4 linked regions of the Homo sapiens genome follow. The protein of the gene in region 4 interacts with the protein of the main gene of each other region in a biochemical or structural test. Each region holds a gene or a part of one and is shown on either strand. Other genes may lie near its edges.

Region 1 (7,684 bases), on a different chromosome or scaffold from region 4:
AAAACTCCACACAGGTATGTGTGGATGAGGCGTGGGCAGGGGCAGGGATAGGGAAACTGGGAGACATGGGGCACGGGTGGATGTGGGGAAGTGAGCTCCAGCCAGGCCTCCTTCCCCAGCCCCACAGCAGGCCCAGGAAGCCCAGCAGCAGGGCCACGCTGAGACCGGTAAGCAGGCGGCCCCCAGCCCTCCACCTGCCAGGGGTGCCATGCCTCCCACCCAGGTAGACTGTCTTCCTCCTGGAGTGGGGTCTCGGCTCACCACACTCTTCCTTGGGCTCATCCGAGCCATCCCCACAGTCATCCTCTCCGTCACACTTCCAACGCGCTGGGATGCAGCGGCCCGAATCCTTGCAGCGGAACTCGTCCACACCACAGGTCATCTGGGCTGCAAGCGGGTGGGCATGGGGTGAGGATGAGACTCCTTCCAGGAGTGTGCCGGGAGGGTGGGGAGAGTGAGGGAGCAGCCACTGAGGGGGTCACACGTCGGGGTGGTGTGAGCAGCAGACACTGGGGAGGGAAGCTGGGCTCCAGGCCAGGCAACTCACTGCAGTTGGCGGGCTCATCACTGCCATCCACACAGTCATTGTCCCGGTCGCAGACCCAGACCCGGGGGATGCACCGTTTGGTAATGGAGCACTGGAACTGGTTGGGGGCGCAGGTCACCTCGGCTGTGGGGTGGGCAAGAGAATGAGGGCCCTCCCTTACACCTGCCACTCCAGTTCACCATCACTGTCTTCTCTCTCTTCCAAGCCCTGGCCTTGGTCCTGCCAGCAACTTCTTCGGAGGAAGGAACAGTTTATCCCCAGTTTTGGTGCTTTTTGTTTTCTGGATCTCTATGTCTCTATATCATGCATGATGATTTTTATGAGCAAAGCAAGTTACACCCAATATAATTTGTGTTGCCCATCTACTAAAGTTATTTGAGAGCCTCTCAAAGCTGTGGGGAGATTCTGCCTGCCCTGCTTCCGTGTCATCTCCCACCACCGGCCCACCACCACCTCTGACACTCACGGCAGTCCCTCTCATCCTCCCCATCTCCGCAGTTGTCCTGCCCATTGCAGCGGAAGATGCCGGGAATACAGCGGTTGGTGTTGGTGCATTTGAACTGACTGGGCAAGCAGACGTGGATGTCTGTGGAGGGAGGAGGAGGTGATTCGTGGCGAAGGGAGGACTCAGGGGCAGGGAGAGGGTGCCCATCCCTCAGCAGGGAGGACACAGGCTTGAGCCATAGGAATCCAGCCTGGAGAGCAAGCTGCCGTGGGCTGCAACTTCCCTGCACTTGAAAGCCCCAAATCCTGGGGCAGGGAAGATGCTGGGGAAGGAGGGAGGGTGGGCGGGCAGCGCCTTACCACAGTTGGCCTCGTCACTGTTGTCCTGGCAGTCATTGTCGCCATCGCAGATGAAGGCAGGGTTTGTGCAGATACCTGTGGAGCACTGGAACTGTCCGGGCCGGCACTTGAACTCAGCTGCCAGAGAGGGAGGCTCAGAGTCAGAGCGGCTGGGGTGGACACGGCCAGGTCCACTTGCAGGGCACCACAGCCCCAGCCTCTCCAGTGGCCATTCAAAGCCTCAGGAGTCAGGCCTCCGACACAGCTGGGGGCCCTCCTGTCACCCCCAGCAGGCACTCACGGCAGTCCGGGGGCTCGTCTGAGTGGTCCCCGCAGTCGTCCTCGGTGTCACACTTCCACCAGAAGGGGATGCACTTGTCGTTCTTGCATACAAACTGGAGGGCAGGTGGGGGCAAGAGGGGTTGGTGGGGGTCTGGGGGACTCAGAAGTCTTTCTTTTGAGGGGCTTGGATGTTTCAAAGAAGTTGAGGCAGGGGTCAGGGTGTTATGGGGCAGGTTGGGCTATGGTGAGTTCGGAAAGGCCAGGTATGGGGCTGCGTGGGATAGGGTGGGGAAGGCAGCACTGAAGCATGGCAAGGAGGGTCAAGGTTAGGGTGTGGAGGTGTCTGTGTGAGGTGACGGGGGTAAAAGTATTGCTGTGGGGAGACAAGAGGTAGGCAAGAAATGTGGGGGTGTTAGTGTGGGAAAACCAGATGCATGAGGACATTAGGACAGAGCAGGTGTTGGGGTCCAAGGAGGATTTGGGGGTTGGGGAGCGGGCACTGGTGATGGGGTCTGGGGGACAGCCTCACCTGGCTAGCCGTGCAGTTGGACACACAGGTGCGCCCATCGCTGCCCAGGTAGAAGTTGGTGGGGCAGGCACATTTGTGCCCTCCCCCGGGGGACAGCAGGCACAGGTTGCTGCAGCCACCATTGTTGACCTTGCAGGGGTGATTGGGCACTGCCAGAGAAAACGTCGTGAAATATGGTGACATTTTCTGGCCTACCAAAGGCTGCCTCACTCACTCTATCCTGGACAGAGGCGGGTGGGTCTGAACCCTGCCTCTTTTAGGAGGGAGCTGAAGCTGGAGATAGGAGAGGATTCTAAGGTCCCAGGATCAGGCCAGGCCTGAAGGCCAGCTCCCCACCTCCTCTGTGCTTCCCTCCCAGGGGCCGGCCTGCCTTCCTTCTGGGGGCTGGGCACCCAGACCCCCACTTGACTGGCCTCAGGGACTTGCTGCTGCCAGACTCCAGGGCTGGATCCAGGCCGGGCTGAAGCTCCCGGGAGCCAGACCATCCCCTGTCTAGACCCTCCTGGAGTCTCCCAGTGTCTGGCCAGGAGGGCTTGGTCAATGCTAGAGAAGGGATGAGCAGGAACTCCCAGGGACCCCGGTGCCTGGCTCACCGTTCGCCTGCTCCCACCCCTTGCCTGCTCACCGTCTGGCTGGCGCAGGGCATGGAAGACATGCAGGTCCATGGGCCGGTGCAGCGTGCTGATGAGGAGCGTTTTGTTGGTGCCCGTGGTCTTGTGGGCTCGGTTAATGGACTTTGTTTCCCAGTCGGTCCAGTAGACGTAGTCCTCAAACAGGGTCAGTGCAAAGATGTGCGGGATGTCCTGGCTCAGCACTGCAGGGCCAAGGGGCAGGCACAGTGCCAGTCAGCCGGAGCTCGGACAGGGTGCCGGCCCACTCCACCTCCTCAAGCCCTACCACCACCCTGAGAGGTGGGTGTCAGCCCCAGTTACAGATGGTTCATGGTACAGACCCCCCATGGTCTCACAGCTAACAAGTGTCAGAGCTGGAGTTCAAACCTAGACTGCCTCATGGCAAGTTCCTGCCCTGCCAGTGTATGGCTCCCCTCGGGAAGTGGGGAGCACTGCAGTTCTCAATCGCAGGCCTCCCACCCCCACCCTCCTTGGGGCCAGTCCTCCAGAACTGTGTATACAAGGGAAGGGCCTCTCCTCTTCCTTCCCAAGGGAGCTGGGTGGTGGCCAGGCTGGGGAAGCCCCCGGGGTGCTCTGAACCCCACACCCCAGTGAGTGGTGTCCTCAGGCCATATCCTCCGCTTTTTATGTCCACTCTTGCCCCCAAAACTTGATCCCCTGTCGCTTCAGACCTCCATCCCCACTGAGTCTGCTGTGCCTGGACAGCCTCACTGGCACACTGACCAACGTGGCGATTGGAGCCATCCAGGCTGGCAAATTCAATGTAGTCCTCGCGGGCGTCGGCCCAGTAGATGCGCTCAGTGACATAGTCCAGCGTCAGGCCATTGGGCCATGTGATCTTGGTGTCCACGATGACGCTGCGGCTGGACCCATCCATGCCGATGCGGCCGATCAGTGAATGGTCACCCCAGTCTGTCCAGTACAGGTACCTGGCGATGGGTAGGCAGTGAGCCCTGGGAGATCCCGTAACCCATCGCACCAGTGGCCTGCAGGGAGGCTGGGCTTGGATGCTGCTTTCAGGGGCTCCCCCAACCCTCCTCAGCCACATACCCATTCTGCACATCCACCACCAGAGCCCTGGGCTCACGGAGGCCAGAGCTGACCAGCACCGTCCGATAGGCCCCATTGAGCTTGGACACCTCGATGGTGTCCCGGCCTTTGTCGCACCAGTACAGGTTGCCACCCACCCAGTCCACAGCCAGCCCATCGGGGTTGCTGAGGCCTGTACGGTGTAGGACCTGCAGGAAGGGGCAGGGGAGGGAGAGCTCTGGGTGACCTGGGGGAGGACCTGCAAGCCTCTGTGAGGCTCAGCCTCCCCTCGTGTAAAATGGGGTAGAGCTCCCTCTGACAGCTCTGGTGGGAGAACCATGGAAGTAAAATGCCCAGTCCTGGGCCTGACACTGTGTAGGTGTCAGCAGAGGCTCTAGGAGAGGGGGCTCTAGGTGAATGGGACCACGCCCCAAGCCTCACAGTGCTTGGCCAGACCTCACAGGGAACTTCCTGATGATTAAGGAGACATGAGGCTGGCAGCGAGGGGAAGGGCAAGAGGAATCTCCCAGTCCTTGCTGTCTGGGCCCAGAGGAGAGTGAGCAGCTAGAACAAGCAGTCATATAGTGACTAGTGGAGTGAGAAGGAAGCAATTTGGGTTGGTGGGGCGGGAAGGAGAGACGATCTGAAAACAGTCATCTGAGGCGGGCCAGTGTTGGTCGCCGAGGGCCGCCCGCCTCACCTGCACATTGCTCCCGTTAAGGTGCATCCTTCGGATCATGCTGCCCTGGGTGGTCACATCTGTCCAGTAGATCATCTGCTCTCGGTAGTCAAAATCCAAGGCAACGGCGTTGTTCAGGCCCTGGATTTGGGGAGTGAAGGACAGCAGAAGTCGGTTGTGGCAACAGGGGCCACATTTGCATCTGGGGGAGGGATGGTTGGACCTAAGCGGGGAGACTTGCAAGGGAGGCTGTGCTGGGTCTGGGAGATGGGCAGCGGGGAGGAGGGCCTGGGTTTGGTACCTGCTTAAGTAACGTGTAGTTGGACCCGTCCAGGTTGAGCTTGCGCAGGTAGTACCGGTTGGCGAAGATCAGAAACGGTTCCTCGTCTGCAGACAGAGGATCTTGCCTCAGCTCCTGGCACATTCTAGCGGCCCTGGTCTCCTGCCTGTCTGGAGCTCTGCCACCCGGGCAGTCCCACACAGCCTGGGTCACCTCATGCCCTCCAAGCGCGCATCTCACCAGTCACAGCCTTGCAGCTGTGGGGGTCGCCGCCGCGGGGTGCATAGCCCTCCACACACAGACACTTATAGCTGCCATGAGTGTTGATGCAGCGCTGGCTGCAGGGGAAGGTGGTGCTGCACTCGTCCACATCAGCACACGTCCGGCCGTCGTCCTTCAGCCGGAAGCCAGGGCGACAGCGGCACTGCAGGCACAGGGAGCCTTGGGCTGGGCATGTGGCAGGGTCTGGGCCTCCCACCCTGGAGACCTGGCTCAGAGACTCCAATTCCCTCTACCCGGCCTCACTAGGGGCAGCAGCATATGGGTACTGAGCCCACCCAGCTGGCCCACAGTGCAGGCCTCCTTCTGTGTGCCCCCGAGTGTCATTTGACAGAGCTGCGTGTGCCCTCCCCATGGAAATGCTTTCTTCTCGTGGCTGTTCTCCTGCCTCAGCAGCTGCTCCTTCTCAGGCTCTTCTGCTGGTCCCCTCACTTCCCTGCTCCTGGCTGTTGCTCAGCTCGGGGCTCAGACTTTGGACTCCTCTCTTCTCCACCTACACTGCTCCCTTGGGAATCATATCCAGGCTCACAGATTCAAATAGCATCTCTATGGTGATAACTCCCAGACTTCCCTCTCCAGCCTGGGCCTCTCCTTGAACTCCAGACCTGTGTATCTCTTGCCTACTTGATGCCTCACTCCTCTCTTCCTCTCACACTGCATATCTCATCTGTCAGCAAATCTGCTGGCTCTCTACCTGCCAGATAGAGGCAGACCCCAACCAAGCAGATTTCTGTCTCATTCACTGCTGTATCCCCACTGTCTAGGGGATGAATGAATGAATAAGGCAGTGGAGAAAGGCGTTCCTGGCACGTCTGGGGTGTGGAAGCTCCTCCCCAGGGCTGGGCATACCTTGAAGCCGATCTTGAGGTCCTCACAGTCCTGGCTGCAGCCACTGAGCTTGCGGCTGAGACACTCATTGATGTGGCAGCCACGCTCGTCCGAGCTGTCGCCACAGTCATCCTGGCCGTTGCAGAGCAGTGCCTCAGCCACACAGCGCCCACTGCTGCACAGGAACTGTGACGAGGCATTGCACTTGTGCTCTGCGGAGGGGCGGAGGCGGCAGGTCAGCGGGGTCTCAGGCAGTCTGGGGAGGGGGCAGAGGGGAGCCAGGTCTGGGGCCCACCTTGGCTGGTGCAGTGTGGGTTCTTGGGAGCCTCGTCACTCTGGTCGTGGCAGTCATTCTCGCCATCACACTCCCACTGGCGGGAGCTCAGACAGCGCCCATTGGCACAGCGGAACTCACTGGGGCCGCAGGTCGGGTACTCTGGGGGAGGAATGGACCTGTGAGGCTGATGCCCTGGCCCGGCAGAGGGCAGGGCCTCCTCCCACCACCGCCGAAGGCTCACCACACTCGGGGGACTCATCAGAGCCATCTGCACAGTCACGGTCGTGGTCACACACGAAGTGCTTGGGGATGCACTGGCGGTTCTGGCACATGAACTCACGGTCGTCACAAGTGCTGTTGTACACTGTGGACAGAGGTGGACACAGCCCTTCAGCCCTGCCTGGCCAGCGGCCGACCGTCCCTCACTCTAACCTCCTGTGGTTCTCCTGGTAGAGTGGGCAGGGCACTGGATGAGGAGTCTGGACACCTGGGCTACAGCTATGGCTCCGCCCCCAGTGGACCCCGCTGAGGCATTTCCTCTCCTGCACCCCGGCTTCCCCATCTGCAAAGTGAGACTGTGGCCATTTGCTGTCCACCCGCTCCACGTGGCCCCGCCACTCACAGCAACCAGCTGCGATGCTCTCGTCTGCACCATCAGCACAGTCTTTGTCACCGTCACAGAGCCAGCGCTCGGGGACGCACACGTGGGTGCCAGGGCAGGAGAAGGAGGAGGGGCCGCACGTCTTGCCTTCTGTAGGGGGAGAGAGGGCCACTGAGAGACTTAGGAGCGGGTAGATCAGGTCTAGCAGTGGAGGTGATGGTTCGCCGTCGTCTGCAGGGGTGTCTGTGTGTGGGGTGGAGTTGGGTGGGGTCTGTCCCTCCCTGGGGCACCTCCCCCGGCCCAATCCCAGCTTCCTTACCACAGTGAGCAGCCTCGTCTGAGCCATCCCCACAGTCATCGCTGCCGTCACACAGCCACTGCTTGGAGATGCAGCGATGGTTCTGGCACTCAAACTGGGCCTCTGAGCAGAACTTGTCTGGGGCAGTCAGAAGCCACAGTTAGATGGGGAAGGGTGGGGGTCACCCACCTGGGGAGGCTGATGCCATGGGAAGGACAGGAGAGATGCCCACAGCACCCCTCTGTGGGGGGGCTCAGCAGCAGCTAGAGGCAGAGTCTCTGAGTCTGACCTCAAGAGTTGGGGTGTGGGGCAGGGGGTTGAAGGCTCTGGATGCCCTTTTCCAAGGGGGCATTTGCTGGGGGGGACTAAGAAGTGGGGCCCAGCAGGCTCTTGGAGCACTGAGTGGGTGCAGTGGTCACTCACTGCAGTGGGTCTCGTCCTCGCCATGTTCACAGTCATCCTCTTTGTCACACGTCCAGCTCATGGGGATGCAGCGCCCACTAGGGCAGGCGAAGTAATTCAGAGGGCATCTGGGGCGTTTCACACCTGGGGGGCGAGGCAGGTGTGAGGGCCCTGCTCACCGCAGGCCACCACCCACCACACACCTGCCCCCGCCCACCTGGGCAGTCGCGCTCATCAC
Region 2 (7,831 bases), on a different chromosome or scaffold from region 4:
GTTCCAGGTGTTCTTTGGCTTGGGCTGCATAACTCCAATTTTGGCTTCTGTCTTCACATGGCCTTCTCCTCACTGCATGCTACTCATCTTTGTGTCTTTTATAATGATACTTGTCATTGGATTTAGAGCCCACCCTGATAATCCAAGATGATCTCAACTCAAGACCCTTGATTTATAAGTGCAAAGATACTTTTCCCACATAAGGTCACATTCATAGCTCCAGGGAATAGGAAGTGGTCATATCTTATTGCAGGTTACCATTCAATGCAGTGTACCGTCTTAGTCACTCTCTTCTTCAGTGGTCCTTAAACTTTAGGAACTATGAACCCCTTTGAATAATCTGATAAAATATATGTGATTTTTATTTATAGATGAGTACTTATGTGCCATTAAGCACCTTTTTGTTTGTTTAAAATTTAAGCAGATTCATACTTCACCACCACTACCAAAGCCCAAACATGTGCTGTAGATTCAAACACTCAGTCTATATCCTTCTTGAATGGTAACAGTCAAAAGCAACCACAATTTTCCTGGTGATCTGGTTAATGTAGAAAAAAACAGGTTATTGCCTCTTTGGTTCTAGACAATACATATAATTCTGTTAATGCATTTCAAGATCACGTTAAATATTTTATGTCTCCCTGAAGTGTTCACATTGTGTGTGGAAACTCTTAAGCTGCTATTATTATTACTATTAAACCTGAAAAGTACCAAGCCCCATTTCTTTTATCTGGTACTTATGTAATTACCATGGAGAGGATCTAGCTAACATTTCTCTAGGTGACATCACACCTTATTAAATTAAGCCTGTCTCTTTAGTCTGTCACGACCTTATTGAGTCTTGCTTCTGCCATCGAGCATATTGAGGGCTTCCTCCAGCTTTATGTCATCAAAAAATTCAATTTCCAATGATGACCATTATTTTCATGTCTTCAAGTCGTTAATAAAAATGATGAACAAGAAAGAGCAGACAACAGAACCTTGCAGCGGACTACTCACACCTCCCTCTTGGTTGATTTTAATGTCTTCATTAGGTACTGTTCAGCCACATAATTTTACCAAGCACCTGGCTCATATTTTCTCAATCTTTTTGTCAAGATTCCTATGACAGACCCTGTTCAAATGCCATGCTGGTATCCAGGTAAATCATGTGCTTCACATTTTCCTCTTCTGTCTGCCTAGTAACCTTTTAATAGAAAGGAATGTGATTAATCTGACATGACGTTTTTTGTGATCCAGGAAGTAAATTTGAACTATGTGGAGTCAACAGAAATATATGGTTTAGCATCATTAACATCCTGCACTAGTAAGTCTTCCAATCAGGGAAGACTTACTGCTGGAAGTGGTATCTGAATGCGAGAGTTTTGAAGGCTGGATAGAGAAAAAAAAGATATCCATCAAGGTCTCCTCCCACTGTTTTTGTTTGTTTGTTTCGTTTTCCCTTGATGAGGCTTATCAGTTTAACTGTCCTCTCTTCAAACAAGCAAAAATGTTTGATAAGAGAGAGCTGTTTTGTTAAAGATTTAAAATGGACTGACCGCTATGTAAAATGAATTTAGAGCTAAGAAATGGAAATACCTTAGTGGATGACCTGGCATTGATGAATTGGATTTGGAAACCACTGGATTTACCAAGACTACAAGAGAACAGAGAGAACCCAGGGAGAGGGAGTTAGGTTTGCTTTGCTCCACAGTGTCAGCTGCATATGTTGGGTATTCTAGGCTCAGAGTTTCTCCTACCCCATGCTGAGCTTAGATCCACACAAAACCCATGTAGTTTTACTAAAGGAGAGATCCTGTCTCTCTTTCAAAGTCTGCTTAATTTTCTTTTAGATAAGCCTCTTAAAGGTTTTATTTAACTTTTATCTGAAGCACATTCAAAATTGATCCTGAGATGTATTGTAAATTGGATGATCCACAAAAGCAACTCTATATTCTTCCTCATTTCACAAGTTTTGTCAGTCTCTACCTTTCCCATAAGCATCCTCATCTTTTAGAGAGCATAAGAAAATGACCCAGGAAGAGAGTTAATCTTGTAGGTGTCACCATAACAGTATCTGAACTTGGGCAGAGGAGAATCCAGGGCTGGTAGTGTGATTAAGTCTTGCTGAAATGGAAGCCATCCAATTCCTTGAAAGACCTCAGTTGTTTTAAGTTCGCAGCATGATCGGTCTCCCCTTTACATCACTATGATAGATGTCTTGCATTGTAATTGCAAGACACGCCACCCGAGTAGAGTATGGATGATCAGTCTTTTTTTTTTTTCCATTTTTCTAGAAACAATTGATCATTCATATTTATAGGGCAATCAACTGCTGGGCTTTGAAAAGGTCAGTATTGATTATCTAAGTCACAGATGGTGTGCTTCTTTACTATACATAAATATGAGTTCCTTTTATGAGTCTGCTGTGATTCTTTTTTCTTTTTAAGGAAGGAGGAGGGAGGGTAGGTAGGTATTCATGTGCGTTAAACAATGGAATTTCAACTAACACTTAAATTCAACTAGGACTTTGCAGTTGGCAAAGTTGTACTTTAAATTAGCAAATTCATTCCTTCTACCCCAACACATATACTTACAATCCACTTTACAGATGAGGAAACTGAGTCCCTGTCCATGGACATGGGTAGGCAAAATGCCAGTGCTTGCATTAAGGAGAAATGGGAAGGCTGTGTATCTAAATCTGAACAGGGGTTTTATATGGGTGTTGAGTTTGGGACTACCGGTCCCAATTTTTTTTCTTTACTGGGCTTTTTATATTTTAAATGCTTCCTGTAATAGGCATATATTACTTTTGCAATTTAAAAAATGGTTGATTTAAAACCCACTGTGAATGACATGCCAGTTGATTGAATTGTATGGATAGTGGACTTTCTCCTTAATGGCCCTCAAGGAACTCACTTTGGAAGAATAACTAAAGTCCAGGCTGCAGTGAATCTCTATCTCCTTCCTAGTTTCTGTGCATTAGTGACTGACTATGGGACTTTCTCCCCTTGTGTCTCCCACTCCTCCCCTAAACACTTAGAGTTTTTGGCCACTTCAGCCTCCGCTCCGAATGGCAATTGGTGAAAGTGGACTACAAATCTATCTTCAGCCGGCATTGCACCAAGGAGGACTATCAGACCTGGCACCTGCTCAATCAGGTACACACCCCAGGGAGTTGGAGTGCTGGCTTTGAGGAGGAGGAGCTAGTGCAAGTCCGACTGGGTCTTATCTGAGCCTTCCTATTTAGGGGAGGAAGGTAGTGGGTCATCTGAGGATGTGGGTGTGGATTTGGAGAAAAGGGTGAAACACACTCAGGTCCAGTAGGGCCAGATGATATTTAGGAACTATCTCGCACCCTGGGATCCTATCTACTAATTGAGGTCACTGAGCTGCCTGGGGGAAAGGTGTTGATGATAACCTGGGGTTTTAGCTCTATCCATGGAGAAATGAGCTTTTTACAGCTAGAAGGCCTCCAAGAGTTGCTCATTTTATCTGCCAATGTGGAGGGCGAGAGCATTTCTCAGACTAGCCTGAAATAAGGGACCCAGAGCACTGGGAACAGGTCCACTGAGAAATGGTGTCAGGGTGGGTAGGTCTAGCAATGGTAGATATTTACTGCTGTGAGAAATAGGCAGACTTCTGCTCCAGAACCACTGGGTCCTTGTAATTTGTATCAACTTCTCCTTTCTTTGTTCTTGACTGGGAATTAAGATTTGGGCATGGTCGTTTATCATAGAGAAGGAACATTTTGGGTCAACTTCAATTTCCCTCTGAAGACCATGTGAAAAATGTGCCATAAATGGGCTCCTTTCCACTAGAATTGCTACTGAAGCCATTTGGGCAAATGTACCTGGTGGTCTGCAAAGATGCCTGGAGTCCTTACATTCTCTATGGAGGTGGAGCAGAAACGGGATGATGTAGACATCACTGGCTTGGGTGGGTGGAGGGTAGAAGTGGGCCCACCTTCCATAATGTTCCTTTTATGTGGTAGTGAAAGATTAGCACTTTTATTCTTGAAACTCCTGGATCATTACTGAGAATGAGACTGCTACATAAAGTACCTAAATGAGAATGAACAGGCTAATGCTTCTTGTTGACAACTGGTTTATTTCACCACCTTTTTGTTTTTCTGTCTCTCACACTATGGAATTTCTCTCTAAGGGAGAGCCTTGTGTCATGGGAGAAAGGAAAATATTCAAGAAACGTAAGCCAGGAGCTCAGTGTGCCCTGGGCCGAGACCACTCAGGATCAGTGGTCTCAGAACCCTGTGTCTGTGCCAATTGGGACTTCGAGTGGTGAGTTGTTTGGCATTTCATTACCAATTCCAACCAGGTCTTCACCTGTCTGTGGGGTGGGGTGGGGTGAAGATGAAGTTAGGAGAGGAAGCATGACGCAGAGATAGGAGGTGTATCTGCTGGCCTGTGGGCCCATCCATCCCAGTTACTGGGCCAGATGGGAAGTCTGCATTCCTGGAAGGAGGACAGGCTGAGGCATTTTCACAGAGAGAGTCACTGATCTATCAGAGCAGCATCTCTCAGGGGGCTTCTTCTCATCTACACTGAGCAGCTGTATTGGAAACTACTGGAGAAGTTGTGCTGGGCATTGACAGAGGTTAGAGAGCTACTGCCTTGCTGTTGCCTCCAGCCACATGCACTCTCACTGTGCTCTTCTACGTGACCTCTCTCTTGTTTCCTTTTTCTCCCCCTAATAACAGCAATGGAGAACAACCTTAAATCTCACTTAATGAAATTCAAATCTCACCTATAGACAATTACTCCCAAATTTCCAAATATTTACCTCTGGCCCTGGCCTCCCCCTTCTCTTGGTTGGACACATATGTGTCTGGCTGTCTACTCAGCATTCATCTCCTCTTGATTCACTATCAGGGTTATCAAACTTAAGGCAGCCAAAGCAAAGCTTTTCTTGAATCCCCTTCATTGGAAGGAGTCCCTTGCCCAGTTTTTCTAATTTCAATAAAACACACAGCTATCCACTCAGTTGCCAGAAGGGTTTGGTTTCTCCTTTTCTTTCACTGTCAGATCCAGGCCATCTGCAAGTCCTTGCAGTTTCTACCCTCAAAACACATTCTAAGTCAAATCACTTCTTTCCATCTCTCAGCTGTTTGTATCACTCCAGGAATCGAACTCTCTCCACATCCACCCTTGTCACTTAAAATTCATTCTCCTCACAGCAACCGAGATGGTATTTTAAAAACTCAAACCATATCTTATCACTACTACACTTAGAATACTCCAATATCTTCCCCCTCACTTAAAATCTAATCTTCTTTCCTTAGTTTCCTCCATTGTAGGTGATTTAGCCCTGCAATTACCTTTATGTCAAAATTCCTTACTGTTCTTACCTCATTCACTGTATTGCAACCGCATTACCACCTCCTGCACCTTTATTAATCCTGGCTCATTCCTAGCAGAGGGAGCAGAAAATGCAAGAATTTCTTCCAAATCTTAGTATGGCCGGCACCTTTGAGTCACTCATGTCTCAGCAAAAATATCAGCTTCTCAGAAATGCCTTCTGAGACCACCTAATCTCACCTATACCCTGGCACAGTCTAGTATATCCCTGTTTTATTATCTCCTTAGTATTAATTGCCGTACAAAATGAACATGTTTTTGATTGTTCCACTATCACCTATCTCTCCAGTAGAATGTAAGTGCTGGGAATGCAGGAGTTTTAGACTTTCCTTGTTTCTGCATCCACAGCGCCTGGCCCGCTGTAAACATTCAATAAAGAGTTGTAGCATGTTTCTGAACATTGTTCCTTTTAGGAGGGTCAAAAATCTCCCCAATTCTGGGAATGGGTACATAGCACTCCGATCCCAGCTGGATGAATTCTTCCCCTGCATCACAATAAAAAGCTAAAGTTCAATTTGATTATTTTGGTAGCCCATCTCAGCTTTGTCTTTGTTAAAAGACAAAACTAAGGGCTTGGGCATTGGCCTCTAAACTTGGGAGGGGCAGGGCAATGATGGAGCTGCATTTGGGCTTCTCTGGCATCAGATAGTCAAAGTAAGTCCAAGTGGGCACAGAGCAGCTGCCCCTGAATGGCAGCCTCACTTCTTCCAGCCTCATTTCATCCAGCTGGTTTTTTAGCTTGATTTGTACTAGAAACTATCCTTTGTTTCCCACTTTCTGCTAGGAATATAACTGGAAGCCAGAGGAGTGACTCTGCTCTCCACCTGTTCTTTATCCTTAAACTCATACCTAGGAAAGCATGGCTTCAGTGAAATTCATGAAAATGAGATATACTAAGTGTAATTTAAGTTTGACTAGCAGAGTCCTTTCTGTGACCATTTTGAGCCCTTGGCAGCAAAGTATATTTTCACATTGTGAAAAATATTTTCAATTATTAATCACAATTAAGCAAAAATAGTCACAGCAATGAGTGCAGTAGGCCACTCAAAATTATGGCTTGTGACATATTGATGTCAACCTGAATATTCAGAATATTAATTTTAGGCTTCCTTGTGTCCTTCTGCAGACTAACTCCATTGAGGCACACTGTCTTTGAATTTGTCATGATACATATTCTCCTGTGTCTCTGTGTGCCATAATAGACCCTCACCCATTGTTGGGTAGCATCACAAGTGAGAAGAAATAAGAACTGTAAAATATTTTCTCATCAGTAATTCCATTAACATTTACTGGTCTGGGCAAAAATTCTAGCACTGATAGTCACAGTTTTTGACCTTGGCAAGTTTTCTTAATCTTTGTGACTTCATCTCTATAGCTGCAAAATAAAAATACATGACATCTACCGCATTGGGTCCTAAGGAAGAATAAATGAATTCATATATTAATATACATCATTAATATAGATAAGGCATTTATCCTACTGATGTATAACATAGAAATACAACATAGGCTAGCTATTGCTGCTGCTGTTGATGCTGTTGTTATTCTTACACCCTAGGGTTAAGTGGTCCCTATGGTATTTTTGGAAGTAAACCAAAGCTTATACATCCAAATAAGCACTGTTTTCAGAGTAGGATCTTGGGGTCTGATCCATTTACTTCAGTACTGGTGGCATTGCTCAAAGTATTTCTGAACCCTTCTTTAGGGAGTGCTGTCAGAATCCATCTATAAGTAAAGCACGGTGGGAGAGGCGAGGGGGAGCCTTTACACGGCCTTCTGTGGTTCTCATACTTGCACTGGTAGAGGTACCATGTGGATCCAAGACGCTGTAATGTCAGGATCTTTATTATTGCCTTTTAATGAGAAGAAACATCTTGGATATAGGTTACTTGATCAAGGTTACATCCCTGGGAGAGAATGAGCTGGGGTTCAAGTGCAGATTTAGTTAAATTCCACATTCTCTCCTCTACACCCTGCCATTTCTCAAGAAATCAAACAAGTCTTTATTATTTTAGATTCATTTTGCTTCAGAAAAAAATAAAGTTTCCAAGTTTACTTACTCTAAAATTAAAACTCATCCCCAAGGACTTGGGTTTACTGCTGTTGATGAAATATAAGGTAGAATGTTTCCTCAACACTAAAACAATTTCCAATGAAGTAGTTTTGACCATTGGTACTAGAATCATAATAGGTGTATGGTCTCCAAAAATATTTTATAGAATTTTTTTTGATATATAATGTGGTGTATGTTTGCATTTTTATAGCCAATCACACCTCATATTAAAAAGAATATAGAGAACCACTTGAGTAAAGTAGAGAAGTAGACAAGGCCAGATGCTCAGTTTGTGGTCATAATCTCAGAACACAAACAAAAAAAAAACTCACACGACCTATAAAGTTTTTTTTTACTACTACTGAGTAGGGGAGAAGTTGTTTTTGATTACTGAAATTTCTGAATTATTTACAGTGATTTTTGG
Region 3 (7,831 bases), on a different chromosome or scaffold from region 4:
ATTCATAATTCAAAAATCTGAGAACCTTAAATAGCAGTGTTTTACCCCATGTTCACTGTTTTAGAAATATACTTGTTATAGAAAAATAGTGTAAATATACTATCCATGAAATAAACATTATTGTAGAATCTTTAATACTTCAAAATAAAAATTAAAACCACCTACCCACCTGTTTCCATACAAAGTTAGTGTTAGCATCGTAATGAAACTGGTCAGCATGAATTTTGAGATTCTTGTGAGAAAATGTCATAAAAACCTGAGACTGCCTGGTAAACCATGAGAAGGAGATTGAGTGACTTGTACAATGCTGTTTCAAAAGAAGGGGGGAAAACTCTACTAATTTTAATAAGGCCTTAGGATAATTACATACATTTCATACACAAATTTACAGAAGAATAAATCTATTTTTATGTAGTTTTATACCTTTGGTTATACTAATCAAGCCTTGGTGATATTTTATACTTTTGGTTATATTAAATGATAACATTAACCAGGCATGGTTTTAGCACAAACCATAACTATTGTGCTAATTAGGTAACAGTACATGGGTTGATGAGTGAACTGGAAAATACTCCACCTGCCCAAAGAAGGGAATTCCCTGTCGAAAGTGTGAGTCCACTTTCACAAATGAGAGTTTGGTTATGGTTCTTGTGATTTCACTGGACTGCCTTCCAGTCAATTCCACCACTGAAAAAAGAGAAAAAAATCTGTTATTTTTGGGAAGAATGATGTCTCTAAAATTCTATCACCTCCCCCCAACTTACAATTCATTATTTGGCTAAGAAAATCAATGCCTGTTGTGTTTTCTCTTATACCCATGTAGTACACAAACCTGTTCCTTCTTCTTGGATCTGGGCCTCAGTGTGAAGTTTCATTTCATACTCCTTCCTCTTCAGCTGGAAGACCTTGGTTTTTACTTGCTGATAGAAGCAGCCATGGCTGTTTAGCTAAGAAGGGAGAAAATAAAATACAAAAATATAATGCATATTATACTAAATAGATCAGTGGTCAGATAACCGGTGTGATTTTTGTGGGGGGACAACATCATGTAGGCATTTTCTATGACGAGGACACAATAAATATTCTCTAGCAACTAAATATTAAATTTCACAACAATATCTCATGTATAATTGACAGATGTATTCCTTGGTATCTGAAATTCCCTAGATATATTGCGATAGAAATGTCTTAAAATTTGAGGAGTAATTTTTTTTGTACAAAGGATGCATAATATTTATACATATTTATGGGGTACACGAGATATTTTGTTACATGCAGAGAATGTGTAATGATCACATCGCGGGATTTAGGGTGCCTACCAACTCAAGTATGTATCATTTCTATGTGTTGGAAATAGTTCAAGTCCTGTCCACTTGCTATTTTGAAATACACAGTACATCTGCTCTTGACCATTAGAACTCCTCATCAAAGTCTGGTTCCTCCTCCATAATATTCAGCTGTGGCTGGGAAGCGGCCTTCTATATGGGGACTGTGTTTGTCAACTCTCTGGCATCTTGGTGGGGCCATGTGATAGGTTCTTGTTCACAGAGAGAGCAGAACTGATGGCCTGGCCAGCTAAGGCAATTAAGAGGTGTATGGTTTTTTCCTTCCTTTGTAGAAGTGAATGCCCATGGAGGCTTTAGATGGCTCAGTGTCTATCGTTCTGAAACACTCACAATGGGCAATTACGAGAAATAAATAATTCCCATTGTGCTAAGTTCATGATTTTTTTTGAAAAATTACAATAGCCAACATGGAATTCTCTTCTAGATTGTTCTCTTCCTGCGTCAGAAAAATGCTGCAACTCACTGCTTTTCAACAATGCCTTTATCGCTATTCTCTAGAAAAAATAGTGTTCAACCTACCTGTCCACTGAATTTCTCACAGAAAGCCTGTGAATCTTCACCGTGGCAGTCGGAAGCGTCACTATACTTTCTGCAAATGCTCACAGTCACATGTCCAGGGACAGGCTTCCCATATGTGTATCTGTCATGAGAACATTCCCAAAGGAATCAGAGCAGACACTGAACCTCCCCATTTTCTAGCTATTTATATCTCCCCTTTAGCTACAGTATATTCCCTGTCTGTACTTCCCTCTGCTCTCTGCTGGGCTCACACAATATTGAAGACAAGAGTCACTAATGGCTCTTATAGAAATCTCCATTGCAACATGCTGAAATTTACATTCTTCTTTTATCATTTCTTTTTTTTCCTCGTTTTTTTTTAGTTTTATCTTAAAAAAGTCTTTCTTATTATAAAACTTAAACCCGTTCTTAAAAGAGAAACAATACCAGCAAGACGAAACAAACAAAACAAAACAGAACAAAAAAAACCCAAACGCCCTCAAGTCTACCTAGGAATACAAACTATTAGTACGATAGTGTCTCTTCTTCCATCATCCTCTCCCCATGTGCAGCCATCTCTATATCGAGTTTCACTTGTTTATTTTATTTTATTTTATTTTATTTTATTTTATTTTATTTTTGAGATGGAGTCTCGCTCTGTCGCCCAGGCTGGAGTGCAGTGGTGCGATCTTGGCTCACTGCAACCTCCACCTCCTGGGTTCATGCCATTCTCCTGCCTCAGCTTCCCAAGTAGCTGGGACTACAGGCGCTGGCCACCATGCCTGGCTAATTTTTTGTATTTTTTAGTAGAGACGGGGTTTCACCATGTTAGCCAGGATGGTCTTGATCTCCTGACCTCGTGATCTGCCCACCTCAGCCTCCCAAAGTGCTGGGATTACAGGCGTGAGCCACCACGCCGGGCCTGTTTACTTTTTTACAAAAGTGGGATTGTGTCGTAAATATGTCATAGACAATTGCTGGGTTTCCAAGTGCATTTGTCTCCTTTCCTATTTGAGAATGTCCTCTGTATGTCTATTTGCAAGATCACACCAGTTATGAGGAACCAGGAACTTGGCCATCACTGTGAGACAGAACTGGAGCAGGGGCCTAGCTGAATAGTAGGTGTATTACATGTGTGATCTTTGGACAGGACTATACCTGCTCTTCCTGCTACTGCTACTGTGTGCCACCATGGATGGGAACATAAGATCCAGGAAACAAGACTTTTCAAGGTTGGAACAGACTGTCTTGAGAAATCACGTTCAGTCTCTTCGTAAAAATGTCAGTGCAGACAGGTATGTAGACCCGCCTTAGGTGGACTAGTGAGTTAGATGAGATTTCAGTTGTATGCCTATCTCTACAAATTCTGAATCTAAGTGATTTTTCCAGTAAGCATGCAAGGTCAGGTAAATGATCTGTTGATGATTGAATTTCCCCTATAGCCATGTGTTAATTATCTCCCTAATATACGTTTGGTTATTTTTGGTTAAGGCAGAACCAATACCCTTCAACACTATCCACCCTTCCCATTTTGTGTGTGTGTGTGTGTGCAGTTTTGTCACTTTCAGAATCAATCCTATTAGCATAACCTCTCTAGAAACAGTTTCTTACCTCATGATAGAATAATACTGATAAGAACGTGAAAGAAAATAAAAATAGAAAAGCAACAGGAGAATAACATTCTACAGATGAGGATGCTGTCAAAGCACTTAAAATTTTTGTGTTGCCACTGCTCCCGGAGAGAGTAGTTAAAATATCCCAAATGGTGAGTCTCTTTTAAATAATCCCCCACAAAAGATTTTTAAAAAATGAACTCACAGGCCACACACTGATACATTCATCTCTTCTTCCAAGATGGTGATTATCTTTGGCACTGTTACTTGTACTTCAAACTTGGGAAGAACTGTTGATTGGTGATAAAGAAGGTTGGTGATTGGTTTTCAACTTTGGGGGAATTCCTATTTTCAGGTTCCCTGTAACAGTTCCCTAATAATATTTTAGGGCTCTGAAAAGGTAGCTCTGCTCTCCAATCTATTCTTATCTATCCTCCTCTCAAATGAAGATTTCAGTTGAGGGACTATGAGAGATCACTGTGTGCTTAATTAATTATGGAAAACTCCATTAAAACAAGAATGTTTTAATTTTGGGGGTTGGTATTAAATATTGCTACAGAAAATAACGAAGCTATGTGAAGTCCTATTCACAGATCACTGATGTCCTCATTGGACTTAGGTGTAATTAATTCTACTCCAAGCCCAATGTCACCCATGGGAAATGGAAAGACTCCAAATGAACTTAAATTCCAGGACCTAAGAGTTTAAATATGAAGAAAAATAATGCTTGATGACTTTTCATGATCCATACCAAATTCCTCCACGGTGAAAGGGTGCTCTGTCCTTCCACCTGATTTCTTCTGTACCACCACCTTGTAGGAGCCCTGGAAGGGCTCTGATGAGAGGGGAAAAGAAAATTGCTTGAGGCCACCCTCTAACTGGAAACTCTGCCATTGTGCGATGCGATTTCCTTTGGGATCCTATATGAGTAAATTAATTATAACTTACAAAAGCACCTGGAGCATTGGAGCTAATAAAAGATATCTATGGAAACCCTAAGTTATCTACAAAAAGGTCAAATGGGGTAGTAGTAAAGGGTGAGTAGAGGAGATGAGTTATAGCCATCTAGCTCTATGGGAGTTTGAAGGCTTCTCCTTTAATGACAAGTTTCTGAGATATTGTAAAAACCTCTGAAATAAGAACATTTTCCCTATATGTATTGCTTTCCTTTTAATATGGAATGTTTCATGTTGCTTACCTGAATGTATACTAGTGGAATCTGAAAGACAAAAGAAAAAAGAAGTTTATAATTATTTTCAAATATTCTTAAATCTCATTTATAAGCAAAGCAGCTAGTATTTGCTAGCATAACAGGGTGAGTATAGTAAAAAATAATTTAATTGTACATTTAAAAATAACTAAAAGTATAATTGGATTTGTTCGTAACACAAAGAATAAATGTTTGAGGGGATGGGTACTCCATTTATTGATACAGGCATGCAATGCATGATAATAATCATTATCCATGATTGGATAATGATATGGATAATGATAATGATTATCATCCATAATCATTATCATGCACTGCATGCCTGTATCAAAATATCTCATGTAACCCATAAATATATATACCTGCTATGTTTCCACAAAAATTAAAAACAATAAAAAGTTTAAAAAATCTAAATTAGTTTCATATAGAATAATTCCCTCTATAGTGAAATACAGAAATATTCCAGATTAAATTTTATAGAACTTTTCATTAATCTATTTTAAGCAATTAATAAATAATGTTAAGAACTTACTAGGCCTTCAGCAACAAATATACATGTAAAGTGCCATTTACTAAAAATGGATTAACATGTCTTAAGTGCTTATAGCATCCTAGTGAAGATCAATCCTTTGCTATGCAATTTTACAGGTTGAGAAATAAACACTTATGTAACTATAAGTAAATATGTTCAGATGTAATCATTAAGATGGGTCATAGAATTCTTACGTAGTTCTAAGAATGAGGAGGAATGGACATATTTCATTAATAAATTTAGTTTAATAAATATTACTTTTAAAAATGAATAAACATTGATAAGAAGCTACTATGAATGTTTATTCATTTTTAAAAACTAATCTTTATTAAGTACCTTCTCATGCGCTGTGTATCATTCTAGGTATTGAGAATATAACCACGCACAAAAGAACAATAAACCATGTTTTAATGGAGCTTATGTTATAATAGAAATAGGCAGATTTTTAAAAATCAATACGTATAGAATGGTGGTAAGTGCAAATAGAAAAACAAAGCCAAGTTAGGCTGACAGAGTGATGGGTGTGGTGCCTCATTTTAGACAGAGGAGTGAAAGTAGAAGCTGGGAGACCACTTTGAAGGTTATTGTAATGATCTTATTTAGAGATGACATTGACTAGGACTAGCTTGCAGCAGTAGTTCAGATGATAAGAAATAGTCTGAATATATTTTAAGCCAACATGATTTTCCAGTGAAGTGGATGTGGGTATGAGAGAAAGAGAAACAAGAACTAGGCCATAATCTTTTGTCTTTGGAGCTAGAAGAGAAGAGTTGCCTCTTTTTGAGATAAGAAAATGTGAAGAAGTTAATTTGGGAGAGAAAAATGAAGACTTTGGGTTGATGTCTGCATTACAATAGAAAGAACTGTTTCTTATCACAGATACCAAGAGTTAGTCTTGAGGAACAAATTAATTACCCTGACTTTCCTTTATAGTGAAGATTTTGGTAGATGTGTATAGAAAAAATCTAAATCTTTAAAATGTTTTTTGAGCTTAGGTTCTTTGAGGATTTTTCTGTGTCTGCTATTGAATGTATCTTTCTAATTGTCCTAATTAAGAACCATCCGAAAAGTAAATTTAATTGTGTGACAACTGACTGAGTACCAGCACCAAGACAGAAAGAATTACCTACTTTCTTTACCTGGAATGATGTTTTAGATTAGGATCTTGTGCTGTTGTAATGCCAGAAGTTACTGTTAATGATACCAGATTCTTCCTCTCCCTGGTCTTCCCTCAGCACAAAAAACAGGTTCCCAGCCTGTTTATACAGACAATCATTTTATGTAGATAATAGAAAACTCACCAACTCATTCAGGGGGTGAAAGTTTTCATCCATGGAGACAACACGAAATTTCACTGAAACAGAAATATTTTTCATGAGCCCCCAAACCCAAAGTAGGCCTGTAGGCTGGTAAGACAAGCTATTAAGGAACCAAGATTATAGGAACTTTGCCTGGGGAACATCCAGGGGAAGAAGATCTTTCCTTTTTGAAGTTGTCCTGTCTGTAGGCTTCTTCATACCTGTCTGCCCTGGTTTGTAGATTGATTTGTCTGTCTGGACAAAGACCAGACTGTCCTCGTTCTTAACCATCACTGTGGTCCGCTTCTTAAATTCTTGGGTTGGTCCTTTCACTTGGACAGTGAGGAACATTACCTCCTCATTGGATGAAGACTTTGGGACCTGAAATACAGGACCGATCCTGAAACCCCATTCAGCACCCGCAGGTCTCCTCCCCTATTTGCTGTTGCACTCTTCCCTGGAGATCTTGCCCTTCTTACTTAACTTCACTCCCTTGTTCTCAGCAGGGAAAGTTGGCATGGACAGGAATCACTTCTGCCATTTTACAAATGGGGAGACAGGACACAAGGTGGAGGAAAATAAATCAGTAAGAGAGGTTGTAAGTGAGATTCACACCTTCATACAGCTCACAGAAACAGTCTTGATTCAATTATACGCTGAGCTTTACCAGGCTGATATTACATGCTAAAAGGGCATGGTCGAAGCATGTTTTACAGGCTATGGAAAAAAACCCCGTATTTTACTGACACTAGGCTGTAAGCATCTCACATGTGGACAACTCTGAAGAGATATTACACCTTTGCTCAGGGTAATTTCTACAATTTTTACTCTTAGAAGTAGTGTGGAGTGATGTGTTCCTGTCAGTCCACCACGGGTGGCTCATGTTGAGCCTTGGTCTAGTTTGCTTTATTAATATTTTTTCCATCTTAATTTTAAGAAGTCACATTTTCTTTTTTTTTTTTTCCTTTCTGGCTAATAGGGTTTCTATGTGATTATTAAGCTGACTTTTAGTTTGCCTGTAAATATTTGTCTCCCATGGCTGGAGAGTCATGCATTGCTCCTTAATTTCTATACTTAGTTTGCTACATTTGGATTCCTTCCTGCAGTTCTTACCAACCTCCCAAAGCCTCATCTGACAGAATACTAGATCCCTATGACCCTGACTAAAAGAACCAAGTATATTAAGTCAAACAGCCACACTCACAGCGAAGGCGACACAGTGGAGTACGTCATTCTCCGCCTCCAGGTCAGTGAAGAGGCTCCTGTTTCCCCTGACAGACTCCAAGGAAGCACTTACAGTCACTGTCTCATTCAGGTAGCTCAGAAGGACACAG
Region 4 (7,831 bases):
ACAGCCTTCCTGCTGAGCACACACACACAGGCCGTATCTATCCGGATAAACCGCCAGGCAGCCTGCTTGCCATCCATGGTCAGCGCCTTGACAAAGGTGTGAGTCGTGGTACAATATGAGTTCCAGTGCTTTGAGTCAATGCCCCGGCACCCGCTGTCAACGGGATTTGGGTCCCGGCACTTGGTCTCAAAAAAGTACTGTTTGAATACACTGTTGTTAATGTTCACCTCTCCCAACACCATCACCTCCTTGCCCTTGATGTCTGTGGCGGTGGTCTTATCCCCAACCCACACGCTGACACTGTCACACACCGAGAATTCGCCCCTGTGGAAGATGGGATGGGATGATGACCGCTTGCTCCTGTGAGTCCTGTTGAAGGGGGCAGCACCACCGACCTCGAAGTCCAGATCCTGAGTGTCTGCAGCTTCACGGGGAGGCTGGGTGCTAAACAGCACACGGGGTGAACGGAGTCGCCGCTTTTTAAACAGCCTGGGGTCCACAGTAATGTTGCGGGTCTGCCCCGCCACGCGTGCAGCTATCGCCGCTGCCGGGGCGCTGCGGGCTCTGCGAAGGGCAGTGTCAAGGGAATGCTGAAGTTTAGTCCAGTGGGCTTGGGGGATGGTGTGTCCTGCAGGGACATTGCTCTCTGAGTGTGGTTCCGCCTGTATGCCGATCAGAAAAGCTGTGATCAGAGTGTAGAACAACATGGACATTACGCTATGCACCTGGAATGAAAAAGAAATGAGGGTGACTTCATGGAGTACTAAATGCAGTCAAAAGGCAGTTTCTGGGTCCCTCAGAGTTGACCTCCCAAGGGGATCACGAAGAGGTTTCATTCAAACCGGGGCACTTCTGAGAGGGAAAGGGTGTGCTAGCAATGGTTATACCGGGACAACAGGCGTAACCCGGGGCTGACTCAGGCAGTATGGATGTGTGGTCACCCCATCCGAGCTTCTCCAGGAAGTGACAGAGCCCCTGAAATTTTGCCCAGTAGTTCGATATGAGCTTGGAGACATCACTTACAGAGTCCTTTGAGTTCTCTGAAGCTTAAGGCGGCTGAGGGAGGTGGTAAGTGTCCATGTGTGTACCAGGGAGGCCGGTGGGGAGAGTTTAACATCTCTCCCTGGCACTTGTGCCTTGATGTGATGGTGCCGTCCTGCTCAACAGTTTTGAATCCTCTGGGAAGGCACGGGGAAGATCTGCTGGGGACATGTCTTGAAGCCTCAGAACTGGGTACCCCCTTTCAGACAGTGCACTGGGTCAGCTCTAAGATCTGGTGACTCGGAGCCCTTGTTATGAATTCACAAAGCGTCATGTTTGGCAAAAACCTTGTGGCTCTGGGACCATCTTAGTCCAGGCACCTCTTCAGACGCTACCCCACATATATAAATGTGGACCACATAATAGTTCCTCTTTGTGTGATGTTTTTAAAATGTGTTCACTTCTATCTTCTCATGAGTCTGTGAGTTCAATTAGGATTTATCATATTTATTTCACATATAAGGAAACTGATTCACAGAAAATGAACTAACACTAAAGCACTGAAGTCACAAATGAAAACTGAACCAGAAATAGAATCCAAAGTTGACCCCTTACTAAGCTAGTGTCCTTCCATCCACCCTTCCTTCTTTTCTCCCTCCCTTTCTCTTTCACTCTTAAGCATGTCTTTTCTTTTTATTGTTTGTTCTTATGTGACTATAGATCAAATGGTATGGCTCTAACTGTCCCCAAGAGGACTCCATACTGCACTGCAGTTACCCCACAAATAATCCCCCAACTTGGTCAAGTAATTGTGGAATTAGTTCTGCTCCTGGAGGGCCTCTCACTGGCCTCCGCGGAGCTCCTATGCATACTTGTAGATGTGTAGCAAACGTCAGCTCCTCTGTAAAGCTTCCATAGATCTTCCTGGTAGGATCAGAAATATCTCTTGTAAGAGTGCTCTACAAACTTCCAATTCTATCCTTTCTCCCATCTCTCCTTCCCACTCTTATGGGTCATTCTGCTCCGTTTCCACACAGATACGACCTAGTCCTCGAAGCCTTCTCAGATCACTCCAATCAAAAATGATCTTTTGCCATTCTGCACTTCAGAATAGCGTAATTGTATGTGCATATGTGTGTGTTCATGTGAGTGTGAGTGTGTGTGTTCTCTCCTACTAAATCAGTGTAATGACAAGAACTCTGCATTGGGTCTGGGGGTTAGAAAATCGTGTTTGGATTCCTACTCCACTACTTGTTAGCAGAAGAAACCCATTTAATTTCCCAGAGCCTTAGCGTTCCCATTGATCGGAGGTGGGCAAAAAACACTATCTCCCAGAGTAGTTGTTAGGATGAAGTAGGTTCTCACAAAATTTGTGTAAATCATGAGTTATTTCTGTCTCCTTGTGGTCAAGGACTTTGTCTTTTGTGCTTTCTACTGCTGGTTTTACCTCTCTCAGACCTCCTTCAAAGCCATTTTTATTGTCTCACCCTGACTGTGAGATACTCGAGGGTGGAGCCGTGTCTCATCCACTTGTGTATCTGGGCACTCCATCCCTTGTATTCCACAGCAGTTTGTGCATAACCCTATCACCTCTCCTAGGGTTGTGGATAATCATTAACTTGTCTGTCTCCCTGAGAGGGCTTTGCAAGCTGCACAATTTGCATTTCAATATTTCCAGGGCCAGTTGCCGTGTCTGGCATGTAGTAGGTACTCAAAAAATTTAAGGAGAATGAATGAAAGAAAGAATGAATGAGAGTGGCAAGAGAAGCTCACCATCTGCCTTCTTTCCATCACAGTGTGTGGTTTCTTTTGGCCTTTGTGCATATGGCTACACACTGCTTTTCTAATCTGTTTTAAGGCAACACATTCTTCTCCTCCATACTGTGCTTTTATTCAGCTGGAAATAGACAGCTCTTTGGTGAGATACCAAGAAGGAAATCACCAAATTCTTTTCTCTTTGGTTTCTTTGAAGAATGTTTCTGTTTGCTCCAGTTCTCCAGCTGACCATGCAAAGGAGGCAATGGCATATCTGGGGTTTTGACCATTACCAGATCTGTTGGCTAATGGTCTTGCAGATAAATGTCCGGTCAACTCTTAGCGGACTGAATATTCAGTTGGCAGCAAATCTAAACCTTTTACTTTTGCTCCTTTTCATGTTTCACTTCTTTGTTCTTCTCGGTACATAATATCTCTTATCAGATACATTAAAGGAGAAGAAAGAAAACTGAAATTCATTCCCTTATATCCAAATTAGTAACACTTGCTAGAATTTCAAGAGGAAAATGAAATTAACTAAATAAAAGGGTTTCGATGGACATAAGGGACATACCTCTCCCTATTCCCCATTACCAGAGGTTCCCACTTCATTCTTGGTCTCTCCTTTGGTGGGCTCCTCCTCTTCTAAGGAGCCCATCGAAATTTCTGTGCAATTGACTCCCATACCTGGATCTCGAATCAACTAGTCTTTTGAAGCTAGTTCTGCCCTCCTGCTTCCTGAGGGCAATTCTCCATAGATACTGGCATTTTAAATGCAAGACATCCAAAACAAAAATCTTCATACTCATAATCATAATTAGGATCATCTTCTCCCCATCTTCCTTCTCTGCATACAATAGCAACAGCCCCATTTTGGACCATTTGATGATAGTTTCACAGCTACCATCTCTCTTGATCCTCTCTCCTCATCTCCCTAAACACGCTTCTTCACAGTTTCCTTTTTCTGTTACTGGAACCATCATTCATTCATCCACTAGCTCCATACCTCTGCTTATCCCTCTGCTTTTTCCTCCCTGACCTCCATCCAGCCCTTTTGGTTCTGGTTTGGTAGCATTATCTTGAAACTGTATTTTATCTTCCATTCTCATCTCTGGGCCCCTAGTTCAGGTCATGGGAACAGTCTCCCACCTGATATCCTGGACCCTCATCTCTCTTCTTCCAATTCCTCCTATCCCTGGCCACCCCATTTAGCTTCTTAAAGCCTGCTCTGATCATATCACCCTGCTCAAAGGAGCTGGTGCCAAGTCCCTTGTCTGTAAGCCAGTAGGGACTGCTCTGCCTGGCAATGGGATCCTGCCTCCTTCTACTCCCCTCACATAGTTTGCATTCCGAGTGCACAAAACTCCTGGGGGCAGTTCCTGCTTGAGCTTCCCCACCACTGCCCTTTTTCAGACTCTTCCCTTCCAGGTATGCTCCCCTACCCTCTCAGGGCCTTTTCTGCTCTCCACCTCTGCTGGTGGAATCCTTCCTGTTGTCCTTCAACAACTTCAATGCTGCTTCCCCTGGGGAGCTTTTTCTAATTCTGAGACAAACTACCTTCTCTCATCTTTTTTTTTTTTTTTTTTTTTTTTTTTGAGATGGAGTCTCGCTCTGTCACCCAGGCTGAAGTGCAGTGGCTTGATCTCGGCTCACTGCAGCCTTTGCCTCCTGGGTTCAAACAAGTCTCCTGCCTCAGCCTCCTGAGTAGCTGGGACTACAGGCACACGCCGCCACGCCTGGCTAATTTTTCTATTTTTTGCAGAGGCGGGGTTTCACCATGTTGGCCAGGATGGTCTTGATCTCTGATCTCGTGATCCGCCCCCTCGGCCTCCCAAAGTGTTGGGATTATAGGCGTAAGCCACCACGCCCTGCCCCTTCTCTATCTCTTAAAGCCTTCCCTTTATATTCTCTTAGGGCTGTTGTATTCTTTTATCCTCCCTTCTAGAGGACAAACTCCCTGTAGGCAGCAAAGTGTCCTACTCATCTTTGTTGCCCCCAGGTGACCTAGAACTCCTAGGTAACTCCTCCTCTAAGAAACTGTGAGTATGTAGACAAGTCTCCTGCCTCCAGTGTTCCTTAATTCTCCATCTGCATGATGATGTTAAAGGTATCTTCCAACCATTATATTCTTTCATTTCAGGTAATTATGAAGTTTTCTACCCTGCCTTGCATCTGCTGGTTTGACTGAACTGACTTCACAAAGTTCCTACACTCTAACACTACTTTTCCACTCACAGTCAAGATACCAAATGGTATCACATTTAATCACAATGGAGATTTGTATCACAGGCAGAATGTTTCATTAAGACTTGAAAATGTCTCAAATATATCTCTCATTTAGATTTTAGGTTTAAAGTTTTTTTAAAAAAATATTTAATTTACTCATGAGAGTGTGTTCCTATAAACTTTTAAGTTTAAAAAAAAACTCTCTTAAAAGTGATCAGTAGATAAAAGAAAAATTGAGTGCATTTTCTATTCTAGTGATATAATGCACCATTTAGAAAAGAACATTCTTTTTATTTTTGGTTGATGTGAACCAGGGGAGAAGTTTTATTTATTTATTTTTTAAAAACACCCTTTGAAGCCTTTCTCCTGAACAGATGACAGCTTTCTGTCTGGCTTTATTAAGCAGAGCTCTGCAAGCTGAATGATCAGCTGAGGAGGATGCAGTTAGGGGCTCACATGAACGAACATGTTCTATTTAATATGAGAATGCTCTTTAATTGTCCTACTCCTACCTAGAATGGAAGATCCATGACTAAGAGTGGGGCAGCCCATTGGGATGCCTTTACAACCAGCCACTGATGGGCTGCCCTGCCCTCTTGCCCTCTTCTGAACCAGCGATACATTCTGTGGATTTCCAATGGTTCACACACTCCAATAATAGGATAAATTTCTCGCACGAGGTGAATGATCTTCAAAGATTCTGGCCTCACCTGAATAGGTGATGGAGCTGCTGAACAGAGCTAAGCAACTGGCCCAAATATTTGTGGTTAGGAGGGCTGATGGCACTGGGAGGCTTGGCAACCATGCCTGGGGAGATGTGTTGTAGAAGGGAGTGAGAGAATTCCTGTCTTAGAGACAGCCATGCCAAGAGCCACGAGTGATTCTTGGGCTAGAGATGGGATACGTGAACCAGGGTCACTAACAGTTGGTGAGAGAGGAAATTCTTGTGGCCAAGGAAATCCAGCCTCCTCCTCCTCCATCTCATTCGCCACATTCTGAGAGTGGGCCAAGGGTCATTTCTTGTTTTACGCTTGGCCTTCACTCTAAATGTTAACTGGCTGCTGTCTTCAGTTGTAAAGGCTCGAATACTCTTGGGGGTTGGAGCTGGTGTGGAGTGTGGGAGGAATTCTGTGGCTCCTCATTTCTCCAGCAAGGTACTTCAGAGGTGTCCTGGGGTGGGCTGAACAGAGAGAGGCATCGACAGAGTAAAATCCAGAGCTTCTGTTAGGACAGGATTTATTGGGAGGAGGCATGGCCTAGAAGGTACATCAGAGATTCAAGTCCAGAGGCTCTCAAACTTCAGGGCATCAGAATCACCTGGAGAGTTTGTTACACTATAGACTGCTGGGCCCCATCTCCAGAATGCTCGATTCTGTAGGTCTGGTAGGAGGACACTAAGAATCTACATTTCTAGTAAGTTTCCAGATGATGCTGATGCTGTTGGTCTGGGGACCATATTTTGAGAGCCACGAGTCTAGCCTAATTCTTTAACTTTGTAGAAGACAAAAATGAGCCTTGGAGAGGCTAAGTGACTTGGGCTTTTGCAGCCAGTGAGTGGCAGGGCCAGTCCGTGAACACCTGACTTGAGCTCAGCTTTGCTATCTTTTAGAGGAGAGAGGCCTGAAGCCGTATGCACACTGTAACTGATAGGTGGTGGGGTGAGTATACTCATCCCCCAACATCGAAATGAAAATTCCATTCAACAGATTGTAAGTTTTACCTTCCTGATGCCATAAATCCAGATATTAGGGAATATTTAGATATTGAATTGTTTTCATATCTGCTTTGTTAGGTTTCTGGGCACCGTGTAGACTTGATCTAAAAGCACTTGAAATGCCCATGATAGAAATATGCAACCAGAAAACACTAGCAGGTACCAGCGCCTGTGGGGTCACTGGGCTCTCGGAGGGCAGCTGTGCTGGATACATTAATGGGAACCAAATCTACTGATCTGAATTCTAAAAGACATACCTTGACATGAATGAGCTGAGATAATAGTAATTATTATTTATTGGGTATAATTTTCTAATTAACCATTACACAAACCTGGGAGGTTGGCCATATTATTCCTATTTTAACAATGAGAAACCAGAGATGTAGTAAGATTAAGTAATTGCATCACAGGTACACAGCAAACAGAAGTGGAACTCGGAGCCACACCTCCTGTGTGCAGATTTGGAACTCTTCCCTACCCCTCTACTCCACTGGTGAAGGGCACAAAGAGTGGCTGTGAACCTTCCATTTTGCAAGTTCCCTGCTCAGTCGGACCAGAGAGTTGTGTGGAGGGTCTGACTGACGCTGTCTATTCGAGGTCCTGTGTTCGGCAACTTTAGACCCTTGATGCAGCTCAGACTCCTGATATGTCCCTGGGGCCCATGGGGCCAACCTGCATGCACAAAAGATTTCCTTTCCTGAGTGGGCTAGGGGAGCTGCATTTGCTGCACCACTGAAAGCTTCTCTAGGCCCCTGCTGCTCAGCAGTTGGTTCTGACTTGCCCTCTCAGGTCCTGTCACTTGGGACTCCTGCTTCTGGCAGCTGCAGAGGGAGGACCTTGGCAAGGCCAAGGTCCCTTAGGCACTTACCTCAGTGTGGCCAGGATAGAAAGCTGCTCCCTTGGTAAAACTGTTATTGGGTCCGGACGCTGAGCTGAGCTTGGGTCCAGCATGCCATCCAGCCCCTTGGACTGCACGACCACTGGCCAAAACTCTGTGGAGGGGGAGAGCTGGCATTAGACTGTACCTCACCACATTCCCTGTGCCCTACACAGTGGGGAGGCATGTGCCAATAGGACAAATTCCATTTCCTTGAGTTCTGGGATTTTACCAGCATCAAGGCCCAGGAAGGAGCTAGAATTTGGCTACCAAAATTT

The links.
Region 1: the proteins of NGF (region 4) and LRP1 form a complex in vitro, tested with the Homo sapiens proteins (one study listed by BioGRID).
Region 2: the proteins of NGF (region 4) and SORCS3 interact in a biophysical measurement, tested with the Homo sapiens proteins (one study listed by IntAct).
Region 3: the proteins of NGF (region 4) and A2M form a complex in vitro, tested with the Homo sapiens proteins (one study listed by BioGRID).

The regions. Positions count from the first base shown.
Region 1 is NC_000012.12:57,194,483-57,202,166, reverse strand, and holds part of LRP1 (prolow-density lipoprotein receptor-related protein 1 preproprotein), read right to left. Parts: coding exon 7,664-7,684; exon of another isoform or gene 7,591-7,663; coding exon 7,468-7,590; intron 7,183-7,467; coding exon 7,066-7,182; intron 6,897-7,065; coding exon 6,768-6,896; intron 6,510-6,767; coding exon 6,387-6,509; intron 6,305-6,386; coding exon 6,164-6,304; intron 6,081-6,163; coding exon 5,890-6,080; intron 5,186-5,889; coding exon 5,002-5,185; intron 4,869-5,001; coding exon 4,783-4,868; intron 4,623-4,782; coding exon 4,503-4,622; intron 4,012-4,502; coding exon 3,824-4,011; intron 3,703-3,823; coding exon 3,497-3,702; intron 2,956-3,496; coding exon 2,767-2,955; intron 2,291-2,766; coding exon 2,142-2,290; intron 1,726-2,141; coding exon 1,632-1,725; intron 1,469-1,631; coding exon 1,352-1,468; intron 1,134-1,351; coding exon 1,014-1,133; intron 671-1,013; coding exon 548-670; intron 388-547; coding exon 262-387; intron 1-261. UniProt on the Homo sapiens protein: Endocytic receptor involved in endocytosis and in phagocytosis of apoptotic cells. Required for early embryonic development. Involved in cellular lipid homeostasis.
Region 2 is NC_000010.11:105,196,977-105,204,807, forward strand, and holds part of SORCS3 (VPS10 domain-containing receptor SorCS3 precursor), read left to right. Parts: intron 1-3,022; coding exon 3,023-3,140; intron 3,141-4,143; coding exon 4,144-4,277; intron 4,278-7,831. UniProt on the Homo sapiens protein: Plays an important role in modulating synaptic transmission and plasticity in the hippocampus, probably by affecting the trafficking and localization ofAMPA-type glutamate receptors in the postsynaptic density.
Region 3 is NC_000012.12:9,105,659-9,113,489, forward strand, and holds part of A2M (alpha-2-macroglobulin isoform a precursor), read right to left. Parts: coding exon 7,702-7,831; intron 7,032-7,701; exon of another isoform or gene 6,879-7,031; coding exon 6,719-6,878; intron 6,554-6,718; coding exon 6,501-6,553; intron 4,677-6,500; coding exon 4,656-4,676; intron 4,378-4,655; coding exon 4,209-4,377; intron 3,748-4,208; coding exon 3,663-3,747; intron 1,987-3,662; coding exon 1,866-1,986; intron 948-1,865; coding exon 833-947; intron 688-832; coding exon 578-687; intron 1-577. UniProt on the Homo sapiens protein: Is able to inhibit all four classes of proteinases by a unique 'trapping' mechanism. This protein has a peptide stretch, called the 'bait region' which contains specific cleavage sites for different proteinases.
Region 4 is NC_000001.11:115,286,083-115,293,913, forward strand, and holds part of NGF (beta-nerve growth factor precursor), read right to left. Parts: intron 7,669-7,831; coding exon of another isoform or gene 7,545-7,668; intron 726-7,544; coding exon of another isoform or gene 714-725; coding exon 1-713. UniProt on the Homo sapiens protein: Nerve growth factor is important for the development and maintenance of the sympathetic and sensory nervous systems.